Homo sapiens: one gene and its partners. The protein of the gene in region 1 purifies or fractionates together with the protein of each later gene. This does not show direct contact. Each region holds a gene or a part of one and is shown in the gene's direction. Other genes may lie near its edges.

Region 1 (3,500 bases):
AAGAGCAAAAATGTAACTATCCTTTATGGGCATGAAACCTTCCAGAAGCTGCCCTGGCCTGTAGCCTTCACCACAGAACTTGGGTCTGGGGTAGACACAGGGTCTGGGGCACATAGTTTCAGTTAAACAAAGCAGTTCTCTCCTTCGTGTAAGCAGAAATTGAGATCTCTTTCCAGTGACCTCAGAGGGAAGGGCGGAGGAGATTGGGTGCTGCCCAACCTGTGCCCCACTTGCTGCCTGACCACAGACATTTGTAGGGCCTCCCTGGACAGGAACAAGCATCCTCCAGCAGTTTCTGATGAGGAATCCTTTCATTTTCCAGCAGCTTGCAGAGGAGGCCAGGGGAAAATATGGTGACCACAGAAGGCCTGGATCATGAGGGTTGGGAGTAAAGCTCTCAGATGAAGTTGTCAAAGATGGCACCATGGCCTTCGTTGTTGGAGATGGGATATGCCTCAGTGTGTTACTAGATCCTGATTGTTATTTGGGAACTCCGGGATGTGATCATTCCTGAGGTTTCTTCCAGCTCTCAAATCCCAAGAAAGCATTTGTGACAGATTAAAGCAGGACAGCAAAAACATGCCGCACCCTGGTCCTACATCACTAAAATAAATCCCAAAGTACTGAGCTGGGATCTGGCCTCAGAAGGCTTCTCAAAGCCCTGTGCTGTGCCGCTGCCATGAATTGTAGCTGATTTATGAGATAAAACCTAATTACCAGCGCTGGTTTAGAACATGCTTTTAACACATTGATTTTCTTAGCCACTTGATGAGGCTTTTAGAATAACCCACTCTGGCTTTCTCCTTCTAAGCTTCTGAGTAGTCCACGAATGCCTGTAAGAAACAGAAACCCCCAAAACTTCTTGGGGCTGTGCAGAAGTTTGAAGTTTGCACTCTTCCCGCTGTGGGGGTGTTGACTTAGAATTTTTTAAGAAGTTAAAATGGTGATTCAAACAAATCTATAGTGAATCTGTGTCAGAGAGTTGTGTAATCGTCATGAAGGAGGCAGCATGATGGTAAAGATGGTGGACAGAGAATCCGAGGTGCTGGTGAATGTGGCCCATGAACGAGAAAGCTGAGCCAAAGCCGATGCCCGACCCGGACAGTACAATTGCGGTTTGGGGCGTTTGTAGCCTAATCGTCTGCAATTAGCACCTAACTCTACTGAGCGTGAACCCTAGTCAATACTAAATAGTAAGGCCAACAAACTGACCTTCCCTTGGAGAATCGGGTGCCCTTTAGGAGGAAACCTCTATATAATAGTCTGGGGTGACCCTGAAAGGCTAAGCAGTCATCTTTTTGCCTCATTTCCCAGTTTTGGACAATTTTTTTTATCACCAAAAAGTAAAGTGTGATTTGAAGGAATAGAGAAGTTTCTTTTGGCCCCTACTGCCACCCCCAAGATCAGTCAGGCTTGAACCGGCAGGTGACCCCAACTTGTTTATAGCATGGGGTGCAGCCAGCATCACCTGCTAGTGATGTTAAAGAAGCAGCAGGAGGTTCTCAGGGGTGAAGCAATGTAGCATTTGCATAATTGCCTACAGGGGCCCACTCGCCTCTAACCTCAGTGGTTTGCAGGCTCCATGGTGGGCGCCCCACCTGCTCCCTACTTCCCCATCAGTAGCTTCTCAGTGAATTCTTTAATCTATCGAAATGGAATCAAAATTCAGCCAGGAGGAAACAGTGGGTAAATTCTGTAGGTCACTGGGAATAATGAATTTTTGTAAGTGTTGGTTGTGATACGTCTCACACTGATAAACTTCATAAGGTAAGTTGTCGACTGAGGAAGCGGCATGAGAAGGGAAAGAGCAGAGGCTGGCCCAGCGTGCCCCTGTGGACACTGTGCACCTTTAGGCGGTTTGTGATTACGGCTGGTGCCCACTGGGCATCAGTGAGGGTGCTGCGGTGTGTGTGTGTGCATGGCTGTGTGCACTGATGCACATGTGTATATTTGGAAAGGCCAAAAAGAGATTTCCTGCCAACTGGCAATACAAAAAAGACCCCAACCTGCCAACACGTTTTGCCAGGAAATCGGTGAGTGTTTTCAAATGCCCTGTCTTATAAATGTAACCTTCTTAAGTTAGCAAATGCTTGCTGTAAAGTATATCTGATACAGACTCATTTTGGATCTCAGAAAATAGAAGAAAGAGACCAAAGTGCTGTCTTTATCCTTTAAAAGTGTTAGCAGAAACAACCACCACCACCACCACCACCAACTTCTCTCTTTTGACTTTGCTGATCAGATGACTGAAGCATGGGAAAAAAATTCTGTGCCTTTCCCAAACCAATGAAGACACTCACTAACTTAATGTTTCCTTAAACTCAGCATTTACAGAGTAGATTATGGCTTCAGCAAAGGCTGTGATGCCTCCGTGCCATGTGTCATGGTGTTTGTCTGGTTTTCTGTAGGCAAACTAGGCGTGGCAACTGCTGGCTGCGTGAATGAAGTTACAGAGATGGAGTGCGGTCGCTCTGAAATCGACGAGCTGATCAAGGAGGTAAGCAGAGGCAGCATTTCAGGGGTCTGGCCCTGCCAGGAGGAGTCTCATGTCTTCTGGCAGGGAGGGGCACCGTTCTTGCTGTATGAAGGCAGCCAGACCCTCGGGCTCGCTGAGGAAGTGGCATCTCCACCTGTACAGATCTGGAACGGAAGGACTGGCTGGGCGCCCCCTCCCCAGGCCAGCTTCTGCCGACAGGTCAACCCCTCACGCCAGATCCCTCCTTCATCCCTAGGGCTGGGCCTGAGCTGCCGGTTATGTGTCAGTGAAGTTCCTTCCAGCTCCAAACTGTTCGAACACTTTGGACAGCAGTCTTTTAAATGGCATCGTGAATTCCCTTGCCTTCCTAGCAGGCTACAGAGAACAAAATGTAAACTTTCCTTGCTGCCTGCGCTTGTCATGATGGCGGGTGTTGTTGTACCAGCTCTCATGGCTATTTGATTGCTTCCTTTTTAATGTGCAGTTTTTATTCCTTAACGGATTGGAAAGCTGGATAACCAAGCATGTTCACATTGCACATAAATTCCTAACAGGCTACAAGGGAGAGCATAATCGGGGCCTCCTTAGGCAAGAATACATGGCTTTTGTATACCCATTTCAGCTATTGGGATGCCCTTTTCTTCTGTCTTTGGCCTCTTAACTATGCTTTTCATGGGTATTACAAGGTGGACATTTGCATGACTAAACCTCGTGCAGCCTTTGCAAAAGGTTGTGTGTGAGTACTGCATAAATTCTTCTTCTTAATAACATAGCAATAATGGAATCCTTAAGAGTAGCTTGGCTGTCAGAGAATGAAGATAACAGAATGTAACCTACCCGAACGGCCTTGCTCTTCTGCACAGGCAGCTGCCAAGTGTCTGGGTGGTCTTTGGCAGCCGACTGAGTGAATTCTTGGCTTCGTGGCCCTCCACCAATGTCCTGTTTTCTGTAGAAGGCTTTTCTGCTGACTCAGCTGAGAGAGTGAGATAATCGGATTGCCACACCGGGGTCACAAGAAAAGCAA
Region 2 (3,916 bases), on another chromosome or scaffold:
TTCTTTTAATCCAGATTACACCTGCCTTACAAAGCACCCCCTCCTTGTTCCCCTCTGTTTCCTCTACTCAGTTGGGGGAGAAACTCACAGCTCCTCCGGGATACATATGTGCCCTCAGCAGCAGCTCCCAGGTGAAGTTACCAGACCCCTGGGCTTCTCCCCAGCTTTTTCTGAGTTGAGTCAGACATGTAGAGTTTGGGTCACACAGGCAAGAGGAATTTTCCCTCGGCCTTACTGACAAGGACACCAACCTAGGGTGCAAACAGATGGACTATGGTTCAAGGACACTGGAATTGAGGAGCTGATCAAGGCTCTCTTCAGCCTTGCTCTGTCCCTGCCTCTTATCAGAGCACAGGTAGACACACGGGCATAGCCAGCCCACTCCTACTGTCACAGGCGCCCCACCATTCAACCTTCCGGGAGGTCAGGGACCTTCTATATGAGGCGAGTGGGTCTCAGTCTGCTTGAATGGTGATGAGATTCTGCTGGATCTCAGCACGCTGCAGGTGTCTTTTGAGAGCATTCAGTAGGACATGGTGATCCCTATTTCAGCCTCTAAGATGACTGGTATTCTATCTGAAATGCAGAGATTAAGCCAAATACCTGATGTATTGTGAAAGCCACTGATTTTAAGAATGGAGAGAAAGGGATTTTTTACTGCATCCCTCTGTATGAATATGAAATCAGAGACCAGGGCATGATGTTGCTAGGATTAGAGCCTCTCAGTCTGGCCTCTTCACCCAAGTGCAAGAACTCAGTCTCTTACTGTTCAAAGAATCTTAACAGTTGAATTATGGAGGGAAATTCCCTTTTGCCCCAAGCATTTCTATATTTAAAGCAATATCCCAGGAGAATATGTTAGACTTAGGATGATACCTTCAGCCACTTGAAGAAGAAATAGAAGGCGCTCATTCCAATATAGTCTTTATTTCCCATTCAGATACAGGTTGAGCATCCCTAATCTGAACAGTTAAAACCCCCAAATGCCCCAAAATCCAAACCTTCCTGAACGCTATGACACCATGAGTGGAAAATTCCACACCTAACAAACACATTTGCTTTCTTATGGTTCAATGTACACAAACTGTTTTATATAGAAAATGATTTCAAATATCATAAAATTACCTTCAGGCTATGTGTATAAAGTATATATGAGCCATAAATGAATTTTGTGTTTAGACTTTGTGTCCATCCCCAAGATCTCTCATTTTATATATATATATATATATATATATATATATATATATATATATATATACACACACACACACATACACAAATATTCCAGGATACAAAAAAAAACATTTAAAAATCCGAGACCCAGAACACTTCTGGTCCCAAGCATTTCAGATAAGGGATATCAATCTGTACTACCAATAAGGATTTCGTAATTCCCCTAACTGCAAATGTCCTCTTCATTTGTTCTTTATGAGAAAACCCGGGTAGTGCCAGCACCTGGATACAGTATTTACACCCTGCAGACCCTAAAGATTTCAGATTCAGTTAGCAAACCTTGATGAAGCACCTGCTGGACACTGAGGGACCCAAAGCTCAATCAGCCATAATCCCTGCTTTCAGAGTTTATATTGTACCTGCCTAATCCACCCGGCGTGACTCATTTCAACACTAAGTACTAGGGGTGTTGTCAGGAGACAAATCTGAAGTCAGGAGAGGAAAATGCAAAGGAGCCCTGCCGTGTGATGGATGTGCATTCTCACTTGGGTCTTGAAGTTCTCATTCCTACATCTCAAGCTAGCCAGGCAGTCTCCTCTCTATCAGAAGAAAGCACTGGTAATTGGCTAGACTGGCTATGTTGAAGGTAACATGAACTCTAAGATCTTGACCCAGGGCGACTTGGTTTTGCTTAAGGTGGCATCACCAATGTTCCAAATCCTTTAGGGAGATGAGGGTATCCCCACAGAAAAAGAGGAATAATAGACCAATGGATTTTCTCCTTTCACCAGTATGTTTGGAACCCTCTGATCCAATGTCTTTTGATACTGATCTCTTGTCCAAATGAGAATGTCGCTTTAGCTGAAATTCAAATGGCTGTGACAATTTACCGAAATGATGAAGTAACCACCATTCCCACCTTTCACTGCCTAGGCTCCAAGTCTGAATACATTTTTGAAATAGGAACTCCCTTTTGCAAAAAAGAAACCTGGGTGTCAGGGAGGTGAAGTGACTTGCCCTAGGAGCAGACAGCATGCCAAGAATGGAATTAGGCTCAGGATCCAGCCTGGGCTCACCCTGTGTGGCTCATTCCCACCCAGGAAACTGAAGATAAAAGATTTGGGAAAACACACCAAGAAAAAGGGGCAGTTTTCTTTGCCCAAGCATTTGGTGCTAGTTAGAGGCTGTTCACTCTCTCCTGCTCCTCTTCGGAGTAGAAATAAAGGCTGTGACACAAGGAAGCCAGTGGGGTGGGAGGGAGGCACCATAATCCCTCCCTAAAACCCACAGAAGACTAACCTGATACTCTTTTGACCCAACTGCATCAACACTAAACAGCTGCAGACCCCCTGAATCTTTCACACATGCCAAGTGAACATTCTTGATGATTTCTCTTTGTGACCGCAACCACCTGCAAACCAGAACGACTCTAGAATTTCCTTCCCCGCCCCCCTTTTTGTTTAGTTTCTAATCTCTTGTTTATGAGGTGTGGGGTTTATAAGGGACTGAATCAAATGAATGTAACAAAAAAGAAAAAAAAAACAAAAAAAAATGCCTTTTCTCAGGGCCAGTGAGTTGCAAATAATTTTTAAAGAAAAGCCTATAATTACATCATCTCAATAAATTTTTTATAAAAAAAAAAAAACCATGAAGTCCAGAGTCTCTGTTTTTAATAATATGAAATGGAGTCAGACAAGGTGCTCCGATGAGGTAAATCCTGTCTCCACTCAATTATGGTATAAAGGGCAATCATGGTTTTTCTCTGGCAGCAAGTCTCCGCTGCAGGGCAGTCTGCAGGCGATCTTTAGACAAGTGGTACCGGAAAGGTCAGAGTGAACCATTCCAAGCTGAGCAGCTGCCACAGGTGGAAGAATTACCAAGAGGAACCGTGATCAGAGATGCTTGGGTCCCATGCTGTGGTGAAGGTTTATTAGCTCACTGAGAACTTAGCAATGCCAGGTCCTCACACAATAGAATTGCCCCTTAAATCTGCTGAGATCAGAGGTCTAAGCCTACCAGGTGATGAAGGCGTAAGGGCTGGGATAGATCCTATGACTAAATACAGGACTGTAATGACCTAGAAGGTCATCACACAGCTCAGAGCCAGCCCACATGCTCAGAATGTCCCAGCCAACCTGACCAACAGAGCCACCCACCAACCAGTGGGCACTTGGGAGTTCAAGATCAAACATTCTGCACTTGACCAGAACTATCTGCCATCAGAAGTGGGTGGAAACAAGGGGAAGAATGGAAGAGGAAGCAAATGCATTGCTGTTGAGCAAATTGGGCGGAGGTTCAAAATGTCTAAGAAATCAGCAGTCTCAGAAAATGTTCTTAGTTTACTTTTGTCTTTAGGTTAACCCAGTTACTCTGTATCCCCTGAGAATGATTGCTGAAATTTGGCCCTATATTCTGTATGATCAGAGCACAGTATCAAATAAGGGTCTAGATATTTTTTTTGTGGTGCTAAAAATGCATTCGAAGCTACTATTTCTATAATGCAGCATTAGAGAACTTGCTAGAAATGCAAATTATCAGTTCCCACCCCATAAACTGAATCAGAAACTTTGGAGCTGGGACCCAGCAGTATGTTTTAACAAGCACTCTGGGTGATTCTGATGCACACAAAAGTCTGAGAGTCACTGCTACCAATTTCTTCATCTTAGTATGAAAGAGAGCTTGTAGCAATTTAAACAATAAACTCAAAATAATTGATGACAACTAATTTGCATCAATAGTACTC
Region 3 (4,814 bases), on another chromosome or scaffold:
AAAAGGAACTAAGACCAGGGGTGGGTTAAAAAAAAAAAAAAAAAAACCTTTCACTCTTGTAGAATAAGCCAGGAGCCGGCGTGTGGTAGACTTCTGGGCCTGTTTCCCGACAGCTGGTTTCGTTTAGATTTTTGTGTGATTAACTGACATCTTCCTGTTCCTTTGCCACATGTATCTAGCAAGCCTCTTTTACCTTATAAGGGAAATCCTTTGTAGCGTGTGGAAGGCTTTGATTGCAGGAAGGGGTGGAACCCAAAATGACTCGGCCGTGACTAGCAGTTTTTCAAAAATACATATATATGTATGCATGTACAGATATGCGTGTATCTCCCAACTCCAGACAGCTGAAAATCTGCCAAAAGCGTTGTTTGCCAGGATTCAGAATTTCCCACATAAGGGCTACTCACTTCTTAAAAGACAACTCATGAATCAAGCACCTCTGTTTGATCTTTAAAATCAATTCCTCGACTGCTAATGGGTACACAGTTTTTTGTTTGTTTGTTTGTCTTTGGCGGGTTATGAAAATGTCCTGGAATTCGATAATGGTGTTGGTTGCAGAGTGTTTTTGCAACATCAGTTCCTGGCCCAGTTACTGAAGGTGGTAGGAGGAGTTAAGATCTAGGCAATTAAAAAGAATGAAAGGCACCCATTCATGGGAAGGCCTCAGTGACGTTTCTTAAGACAGTTTCATCAGTGGTTTTCACAATTCTCTGCATTTGGTGTTTCAGAGGACACTGCAATACGAAACACCTGTGGGAGTGCCCTCTTTCTGCTTCTAGGAATCTGAGGCTGAGAAACCTTCCTGACTCTATTTGTGTAGTTTTTCGGCCACGTTAGCCTCATTCTATTTTTTTTTCCCCCAGTATGAACTCAGGGCAGGAGAGGGAGTGGTTTCCTAATAATTTTTTTTTTTTGAGACGGAATCTTGCTCTGTTACCCAGGCTGGAGTGCAGTGGCGCGATCTCGGCTCATTGCAACCTTCACCTCCCGGGTTCAAGCGATTCTCCTGCCTCAGCCTCCCAAGTAGCTGGGATTACAGGCGCCTGCCCCCACACCCAACTGATTTTTTTGTATTTTTAGTAGAGATGCGGTTTCACCATGTTGGCCAGGCTGGTCTCGAACTCCTGACCTCATGTGATCCACCCACCTCCGCCTCCCAAAGTGTTAGGATTACGGATGTGAGCCACCGCGCCCGGCCTTCCTAATAATTTTGATAGCCTTCCCCAGTTCAGGGATTCTTCATTTGTTCTGATAGGAAAAAGCTAGCGTGGCTTCCCTTTTCCTCTCGGTTGAGGCCCGTTTGACCCGTTCTCAATATTCCTTCCAAAGAGCAGGCATCGCTGGAAAACTCGCCTTGCCTCGTAGCCCTGGCAGGACCTAGGGGACAGGTTCTGACAAGGAAGAGCCCTGGGTGGGTCTTAAGAGGCCATTCATTTCTTACCAATTCTGAGTCACTGAATAAAACCACTTCCCCCAGTGGGGCCCCTCGGTTTCTTCACCTGTAAAATGGGTGCGATGTGTGAGGATGAAATTGCAGTAAAATAAAACCGTGGCAGTAAGAGATGCCTTTCTCTGGCACATCCCACCTGCTGGGCATAAGCGGCGCCACCCTCTGGAGTTACAGCCTCAAGGCAGTCCGGTAACTAATCAGGCTTTGGGATGGAGAGGGCCAGGATGAGGAAGCAACCTTCCCAACACCACGTGGCTGTGAAAATGACAAAGCACGGTCGGGCGCAGTGGCTCACGCCTGTAATCCCAGTACTTTGGGAGACCAAGGCGGGTGGATCACGTGAGGCCAGGAGTTTGAGACCAGCCTGACCAACAAGACGAAACCCTGTCTCTACTAAAAATACAAAAAAATAGCAAGGCGTGGTGGTGTCCGTCTGTAATCCCAGCTACTCAGGAGGCTGAGGCAGAATTGCTTGAACCCGGGAGGTAGAAGTTGCAGCAAGCCGAGATCATGCCATTGCACTCCAGCCTTGGTGACGGCGCAAGACTCCATCTCAAAAAAAAAATTAAAAAGAAAATGACAAAGCGGGGATTCCAGCCCAGCACTTTTTGGCCCTGGAGTTCCTGGTTTAATGCTTCCCATTGTACTTCCTTTCTTGTAGGTAAAAACACCTTGAAAAGCCAATAACACTATTGGGGTATGTCTTCCATGCCTGCAACCAAGTTTTCTTTCCCTTTCCATATCTTTTTGTCCTGCCATCTCTCAGCCAGGCGGATTGAAGGATGGAATTCCAACGAGGCTCCCCCGCCTCGTCCCACCTTGGTAATTGCATGGCCAACATTTAACTGAGGGCTCCATAGTCTTGCATTTATCTTGCCATTCAGGTGAATGGGAGCGGAACTCACAGGACACAATGAGCCGGGTCACTGATGGCCTTGCTTTCTAAGAATCTCACAGTGAGCCCTAGAACTCTCTACGTGGTAACACTGTGTGCCTTTTTCAGAGAAGAGCCTATCTTAGATCTTAGCCTAACGTTGGGTCTATTGTGTTGCTGGAGAGACCAGCACTGACATTCATCTCAAAGCACATGGTATGTTTGACTCCTATGTTGACTCAACTACCCATCTTGTACTGGGACACTCGCTTTTTTTTTTTTTTTTTGAGACGGAGTCTTGCTCTGTCACCAGGCTGGAGTGCAGTGGCACGATCTCAGCTCACGGCAACCTCCGCCTCCCGGGTTCAAGTGATTCTTCTGCCTCAGCCTCCTGAGCATGTGGAACTACAGGCACGTGCCACCACACTCAGCTAATTTTTCTATTTTTAGTAGAGACAGGGTTTCACCACGTTGGCCAGGATGGTCTCGATCTCTTGACCTTGTGATACACCCACCTCAGCCTCCCAAAGTGCTGGGATTACAGGCATGAGCCACCACGCTTGGCGATGCTCATCTTTTGCTATGGAGTGGTAGATGTTTTTCCCAGACATTTTCCGGGAAGATCATACTGAAATTTTGGTATGAGTGTAAATTCCCTATGGCCTGGACTCCTGGGTGGGCTTTGACGGGGAAGATCAGGTTAACAGAGGGCAGGACATGGGGGAGGCTCCCACTGGTGGCTGGCCTGATACTTCTTAACATGGCTGCACCTCCGACCTCCCCAGGCTGAAGGTGATGTGGCCGCCCTCAACCGACGCATCCAGCTCGTTGAGGAGGAGTTGGACAGGGCTCAGGAACGACTGGCCACGGCCCTGCAGAAGCTGGAGGAGGCAGAAAAAGCTGCAGATGAGAGTGAGAGGTAAGGACGCTTTGAATCTGGTGGCATCCGTGTTTGCTTTTAGAAAATGGGGATCATGCTGCCGACCTCGCAGAGCTGGTGTGAAAGTAAACAAGGTCACAAGGACATGCATGTGTCCACAAAAAAGTGCATGACAGCACTTTGTAAACCATCACTCCATGGGTAGAGATGTTTATCCGTGGCCAGGCACGGTGGCTCATGCCTGTAATCCCAGCACTTTGGGAGGCCAAGGCGGACGGATCACCTGAGGTTGGGAGTTTGAGACCAGCCTGGCCAACATGGTGAAACCCCGTCTTTCCTAAAAGTACAAAAAAATTAGCCTGCCATGGTGGCGGGCACCTGTAATCCCAGCTACTCAGGAGGCTGAGGCAAGAGAATCTCTTGAACCCAGGAGGCAGAGGCTGCAGTGAGCCGAGATCGTGCCATTGCACTCCAGCCTGGGCAACAAGAGCAAAACTCCATCTCAAAATAAAGTGAGGGGTGTTTATCCTTACGGTAACCATGAAAAGAAACTTCCGACAGACAGAAAGGCAAACAGAACGGGCAGATGTGAGACTGCAAGTATGACTGTCCATGGTGGTCAGTTTGCAAAGCACTGCTTCTCGTATTTTCTCTGAAAGCCACAGTGCCTCTTAGTGTTCTCTAGACACCAAATTTCAGGTAGGCCGGATGCAGTGATTCCTGCCTGTGCTCCCAGCACTTTGGGAGGCAGAGGCGGGCAAATCGCCTGAGCTCAGGAGTTCAAGACCAACTGGGGCAATGTGGTGAGACCCTGTCTCTACAAAAAATACAAAAATTAGCCGGGTGTGGTGGTGCACGCCTGTACTCCTGGCTACTCAAGAGGCTGAGGTGGGAGGATCACTTGACCCCAAGAGTTTGAAGCTGCAGTGAGGCAAGATTGTGCCACTGCACTCCAGCCTCAGTGACAGATGAGATTCTGTCTCAAAAAAAAAAAAAAAAAAAAAAAAGCAGAGTACTGTGGAGAGGAGGAAAGGAAACTTGGGATGCACAGGTGATTGTTAGCAGAGCTGTCAGGCTTTAGGCTTTTGGACGGTGACAGCTATTTCAGGGACAGTTGCAAACCAGCATGGTTAATGTACTTGCAACTGACCATGCACCAGGTGCCGTGGCTCACGCCTATAATCCCAGCACTTTGCGATGACGAGGCGGGTGGATCAACTGAGGTCAGGTGTTTGAGACCAGACTGGCCAACATGGTGAAACCCCGTCTCTATTAAAAATACACAAATTAGCTGGGCGTGGTGGCGGGCACCTGTAATCCCACCTACTCAGGAGGCTAAGGCAAGATCCCCCAGCTTGAACCCAGGAGGCAGAGGGTGCAGTGAGCCAAGATCGCACCACTGCACTCCAGCCTGGGCAACAGAGTGAGACTCTGTCTCAAAAAGAAACTGACCACGTTCCTCACCCGCCCATGGTATCTGTGCTGCAACCCAGCCACCAGTAGGGTGCCTTCTCCTCGGTAGCCAGATCATTCTCTGGCACGCCTTGGCACAGGCTCTCTGGAAGACTGAGGGTAGATTGTGTAATTCACAGAAGCAGCAGTCTGTGTGT
Region 4 (4,814 bases), on another chromosome or scaffold:
CAGAGTGTATTCTACAACTACAGTGTTCAGAAAGCAAGCAAGCAAAATGGAAGATGTCATTATGCATTTGAAAAAGTTGGGTTTTAAAAAGTTAAATAGATTCCATTGTTGAAGGATTTCTGGGGTCCTTCTTAAATGCTAATATATGTGTCAGTCTTCAAGAGGAAGTGGTATGATATGTAGTATTTTGCACACATATTTGAATGTGCAGTGTTTTTTTTGGATCATCTCACAGAGTTAGTACTCATCAGAACTGGATGGGAGGCAGATGGGTCCTCCTGTGTGAGCTTGGCTACACGGCTTATTGTGCTCTTCAGGCCTGTCACCCACCTCTATGAAATGAACACTCCTCTTCTTTATTGAGAGGGGGATAAATTACATGAGTTTGCTCCAGCTCTGACATTCTACGACTGTGGGAGTCTATAACAAATTAAAGGAGAGATGAGCAAAGGAAGCAGAAGCCAATATCCTTGACGGGATATGTGTTCCCACCTGACCACCATTTGAACAATTTGAAGTTCCTTAACCTATCTGTATTGAATGGGACCCACTGGGTGACAGGCAACAGTAACTCCCCACTTAAGCTTAGAAAAAGCATTTATTTGAGAGCTACGAGGGCATCTTAGAGAATTTAAAATCAGAAATTGACATCAGAAATTCACTGAAATGGGAACCCCAGAAGTGCTTTCTCTCTGTTGTCCTCTTCTCACCACACATTCACTTCATTCTTCTCTCCTGCTAGAGACCGTCTTCTTTTGCCTCACAGTCCTGTGGCAGAACATGGCTGCAAACAGTCCAGCCACCTGGCCCTCATAGTCTCACAGAAAAGAAACCAAACTGGTCCAGCTTAGTTTAGCTCTGACCCATGGACCAATCACTATGATCCACGTAATACCATGTGGGAGTCATGGAATTATTGAACCAAAGAGTATCAAAGAAAGAAAGAACCTTAGAGAAACCTAACCAGATTTGCTCCTTTTTTGGATGCTGCATTTGAGGGTGAGAGAGCGCAAGTGACTTGTTCAGAGGCATACACAAGCTAGTAAGCTAGAAGAAAGGCTGGCTTCATGTGTGGAGGTATAATGGGCCTTCAGCTCAACTGAACCCATGGAAAAAAGGGACTCTGTGGGGCTTATACAGCCCTTTCCTCATACAGCCAATACCACCTAGCTTGGCCAGAGTCTCTGTGGTCTTATTTCTTCCCTAGTGCATTTAAGAGGATGGTTGGATCTCACGGCCACTTCTCTCTCCTCAGATGCATTCCTTGCGCCTGCTCAGCCAGAACCAGCCATCTCAGATCTTTCTGAGCATGAGTGACAACTTCAGGCCTGTCCAGCCACTCAACAACCGCTGCATCCGCACCAATATCAACTTCAGTTTACAGGGGAAGGACTGTCCAAACAACCGAGCCCAGAAGCTTCAGTATAGAGGTGGGTTTGGTGGCTCAGAGAGTGGAGGATCTAGGCTAGAGCTCAGTCTTTCTGCTTAGACCTGTTCTTAAAGGCCTGGCATTATCTTCCATTATAGGAATGATGACTGTAAATGACAATAGCCATCACACTCCATTTGCATGGTGATGAAGGTCTAAAGTTTTGATATATGTGATACAGATACCTGTATGAATGCATCTAGGTAGGTTGGTAGGTAGGTAAGTAAGTGGATGGATGGATGGATGGACGGTAGGTAGATGGCAAGGTGTAGAGGTTTGATATATGTGAGATATATATATATGTAACCTTTAAACACATATATCAAACCTTTAAAACCCCTGTAGATCAGGCAAGACAGCTTTTTATTGCCATTTTTCAAAAGAGCCCAGAAAGGCTGATGTTCCCAAGGTTATCTGTTAGAACAGGACAGTGAAAAGCATTAGAGCTTTTAAGTATATGGAAGAAAGACCTGCTTTCCCCTAGAAGATGAACAAATACTCTAAAGGGCAGGCCATTAGAATCCAATGGGGTAATTTGTGAGTGTATCTTTGCCCAGTGCTATGTCCCTAGAAATGGTTATTATTCCCACTAAAGGGGACATTTAAGTTGACATCTGCCTCCTGTAACTCTGTGGTGCACACCCAGCCCTCTCTCTCTTCCCTTCTGCTTACTACTAAACATCTGTTAATCATTGTGGTAAACACTCAGTGTGGAAAGAAAGATGGAGGAAGGATGGGGTCTTGGAGAGCCCTGGACTGGAAATCAGGACACCCAAGTTCTGGGCCTAGTTCTAACAAGCTGTGCAAACCCAGCCACATTGTTTACCCCCTAGACCTGGCTTCTTCGTGACAGTTCCTATGCCATCTACTTCACAGTTTGTTAAAGGAAGCAAACAAGAGCCTGGATAGGGAAGCCCTTTGTAGCAATAACATGCTCCCCAAATAGGAGGGCTGTGGTTATTACCAGACAGCTTTTAGAAGCAGCCTCCACCACTACTCCTTGATCCTCCACTTCATTCCTCCTACTTCCCCCTTGTTCCCTTCTTTTTTCTCTCTCAGATACACTTGCATGCCCAAACTACATATTTTCCACACCCTTCCAGCCGGAACTACCAGAAAAGTAAATACCTAACTCATTCATTGCTTCTTCTCTTTAGTCAAAACCCCTGTATTGTGTTCCTACCATGTGTCAGTTAGCTGGGTGATGGGTGACAGATAAGACACCTATCCAAACAGAGCATATGGTCTACAACAGGAGTCTACACACTTTTTCTATAAAGGACAGAGAGTAAATATGTTAAGTTTTGAAGCCATAAAATCTCTATGGCACTCTGACATTGTAGTATGAAATCAGCCATTGATAATATCTAAATGAATGGGTATGGCTGTGTTCCAATAAAACTTTATTTATAAAAACAGGTATTGTGCTGGATTAGATCTGTGGACTGTTGTTTTTCCATCCCTAGCCTAGAGCAGTGTCATCCACTAGAACTTTCTGTGGTAATGGGAATGTTTTCATGATAGGTTGATGACTATCCTGCACTGCCCAATACAGCAGCTACTAGCCATATGTGGCTATTGAACATTGGATGGGTGACTAGTACAATGATGCAACTAATTTTTTATTTTAATTAATTTAAATTCATAGTAGCCACATATGGCAGCTAGTGGCCACCATATTGGTCAGTATAGGCCTAGAAGGTCATGGAGAATTGGAAGGGAGTAGTTGGAATGCATATAAGTAAGCAGGCATTTACAAAACAGTCCCTTCCCCTCTGGAGGAATTCTCTAAAACTGTGTGCAAATTAATTGAGTATGCCTCGTTTTATGTTGTATGTGTGATTTTTTTTTTCTTTCTCTCTCTTTGCAGTAAATGAATGGCTCCTCAAGTAGGGAACAAAGCCAAGAAGAATCCCACCTCAGTGAAATGCTACAACTGTGAATTGACGTAACCTAGAATGTCCCCCTTCTTGCTTCTCTCTCCTTCTTTCCCCCAAGCCTCATTCATTCTTGGGATTGGCCCTTTCTTCATGAAAAGTGTCTGCAAAACCATGGCAGAGGAATACATCTCTCACACATACTCACAAACACACACACAAGCACTTGCACATACATACAAACACATGCAAACATACCTACACACACACACACTCTTACAACCTCCATCATGGGAAGTCAAGTTTCAGAAACAAAAGTCTCATTCATAAGAGGTCTTAGAAGAAAATAACCAGTTAACCTGATTTCAATTTTGATACCGTTTTCCTGAACTAATAAATCTACCCAATGAGACTTTTCAGCCTTTGTACATACAAAATTCTTCCAAAAGAGAGAGGAGAAAATACAGCTCTGATGGCATCAAACGGACTTTGCATCAAGTAATTTCAGATAGTGTCCTAGGATCCTTTGAGGGTGCTGGTAGCAGGTGAGCAGGACAAAGTTGACCAAGGACACTTATTTCTAGATTATGATTCTTCTGTTTACTCAACAATTTACAAAGAAAAAAAGGACAGACATTGAAGAGCTACACATTGTATATATATCACCACAGACTATAAGGAAATGGAATTATTTCCCTCTTTGTCACATATCTGTAGTAGGATTTGCCAAGATCAGAAATGATCCATTTGCTGTTTCTTGTTTTCCAAAGGTCATACATTGTGTTTGGTTATTGTTACCAGCTCAATAAATGTGTTTAACGAGTTAATTTCATTTTTCTGGCTTTGGTCTGTTCTCCTTCCTTACAGGCTAAGCCCTGGCTCCATGCAACTGCATTCTTTGATTTCACTTGTTCCTTCATCTACATGTTTTGTTCATTTGCAGCCAGTTTTTACTGAGTTTGTGGCAATCAGGAATGCATTTGCTAAGCAAGTATGACTTTAATTCCACTCCATGGCTCAATCATTCACATGAGGTGAGCTTCAGCCTGAGATAGCAGGCGACAGACTTCTTGCGTTTCAAAACTGCCATGCCCCCCTGTGATGCTCCCGTGAAGGAATGCACTTTGCCTTGTAAGTTCCTGGGAAAGGGGTATGTTTTCTCTCCAGGTGCAGCCAGATCTCACAAAGTACAAAACGAATGCCTTTCTTTTCTTGTTTATAATGGTCACTCACTGTGTTTGGTTACTGTCAAGAAATCAATAAATGTGTTTAACAAGTTACCCAGTACCCATGTCTGACTTTATTGAGAAAGAGGATGCTCCCTGCTGAAGTCTCTGAGTCCTGCTGGGTGCAGGAGCAATTGCATACGGGGCTGGCAGGGCATCCAGAACAGCCTGTCTAGCCATTCCCAGAGCCAGGTAATTAATACCCTGTTGAGAAAACATATAGGCTTAGCTCCTGGAAGAGAACACTTGGATGTTTGTTCAGTGGCCAAATTAAAAATAACT

The links. Proteins that work in one complex are often made in the same cells at the same time.
Region 2: the proteins of IRF8 (region 1) and ETV6 purify together in Homo sapiens (affinity purification with mass spectrometry, with the first as the bait; one study listed by BioGRID). This does not show direct contact.
Region 3: the proteins of IRF8 (region 1) and TPM4 purify together in Homo sapiens (affinity purification with mass spectrometry; one large-scale study listed by BioGRID and IntAct). This does not show direct contact.
Region 4: the proteins of IRF8 (region 1) and CA10 purify together in Homo sapiens (co-immunoprecipitation; one large-scale study listed by IntAct). This does not show direct contact.

Annotation. Positions count from the first base shown.
Region 1 is NC_000016.10:85,909,162-85,912,661, forward strand, and holds part of IRF8 (interferon regulatory factor 8), read left to right. Parts: coding exon 1-12; intron 13-2,408; coding exon 2,409-2,497; intron 2,498-3,500. UniProt on the Homo sapiens protein: Transcription factor that specifically binds to the upstream regulatory region of type I interferon (IFN) and IFN-inducible MHC class I genes (the interferon consensus sequence (ICS)). Can both act as a transcriptional activator or repressor.
Region 2 is NC_000012.12:11,892,585-11,896,500, forward strand, and holds the end of ETV6 (transcription factor ETV6), read left to right. Parts: 3' UTR 1-2,793; downstream 2,794-3,916. UniProt on the Homo sapiens protein: Transcriptional repressor; binds to the DNA sequence 5'-CCGGAAGT-3'. Plays a role in hematopoiesis and malignant transformation.
Region 3 is NC_000019.10:16,078,804-16,083,617, forward strand, and holds part of TPM4 (tropomyosin alpha-4 chain), read left to right. Parts: intron 1-2,111; exon of another isoform or gene 2,112-2,149; coding exon of another isoform or gene 2,150-2,272; intron 2,273-3,109; coding exon 3,110-3,243; intron 3,244-4,814. UniProt on the Homo sapiens protein: Binds to actin filaments in muscle and non-muscle cells. Plays a central role, in association with the troponin complex, in the calcium dependent regulation of vertebrate striated muscle contraction.
Region 4 is NC_000017.11:51,630,092-51,634,905, reverse strand, and holds the end of CA10 (carbonic anhydrase-related protein 10 precursor), read left to right. Parts: intron 1-1,255; coding exon 1,256-1,430; intron 1,431-3,299; coding exon 3,300-3,322; 3' UTR 3,323-4,586; downstream 4,587-4,814. UniProt on the Homo sapiens protein: Does not have a catalytic activity.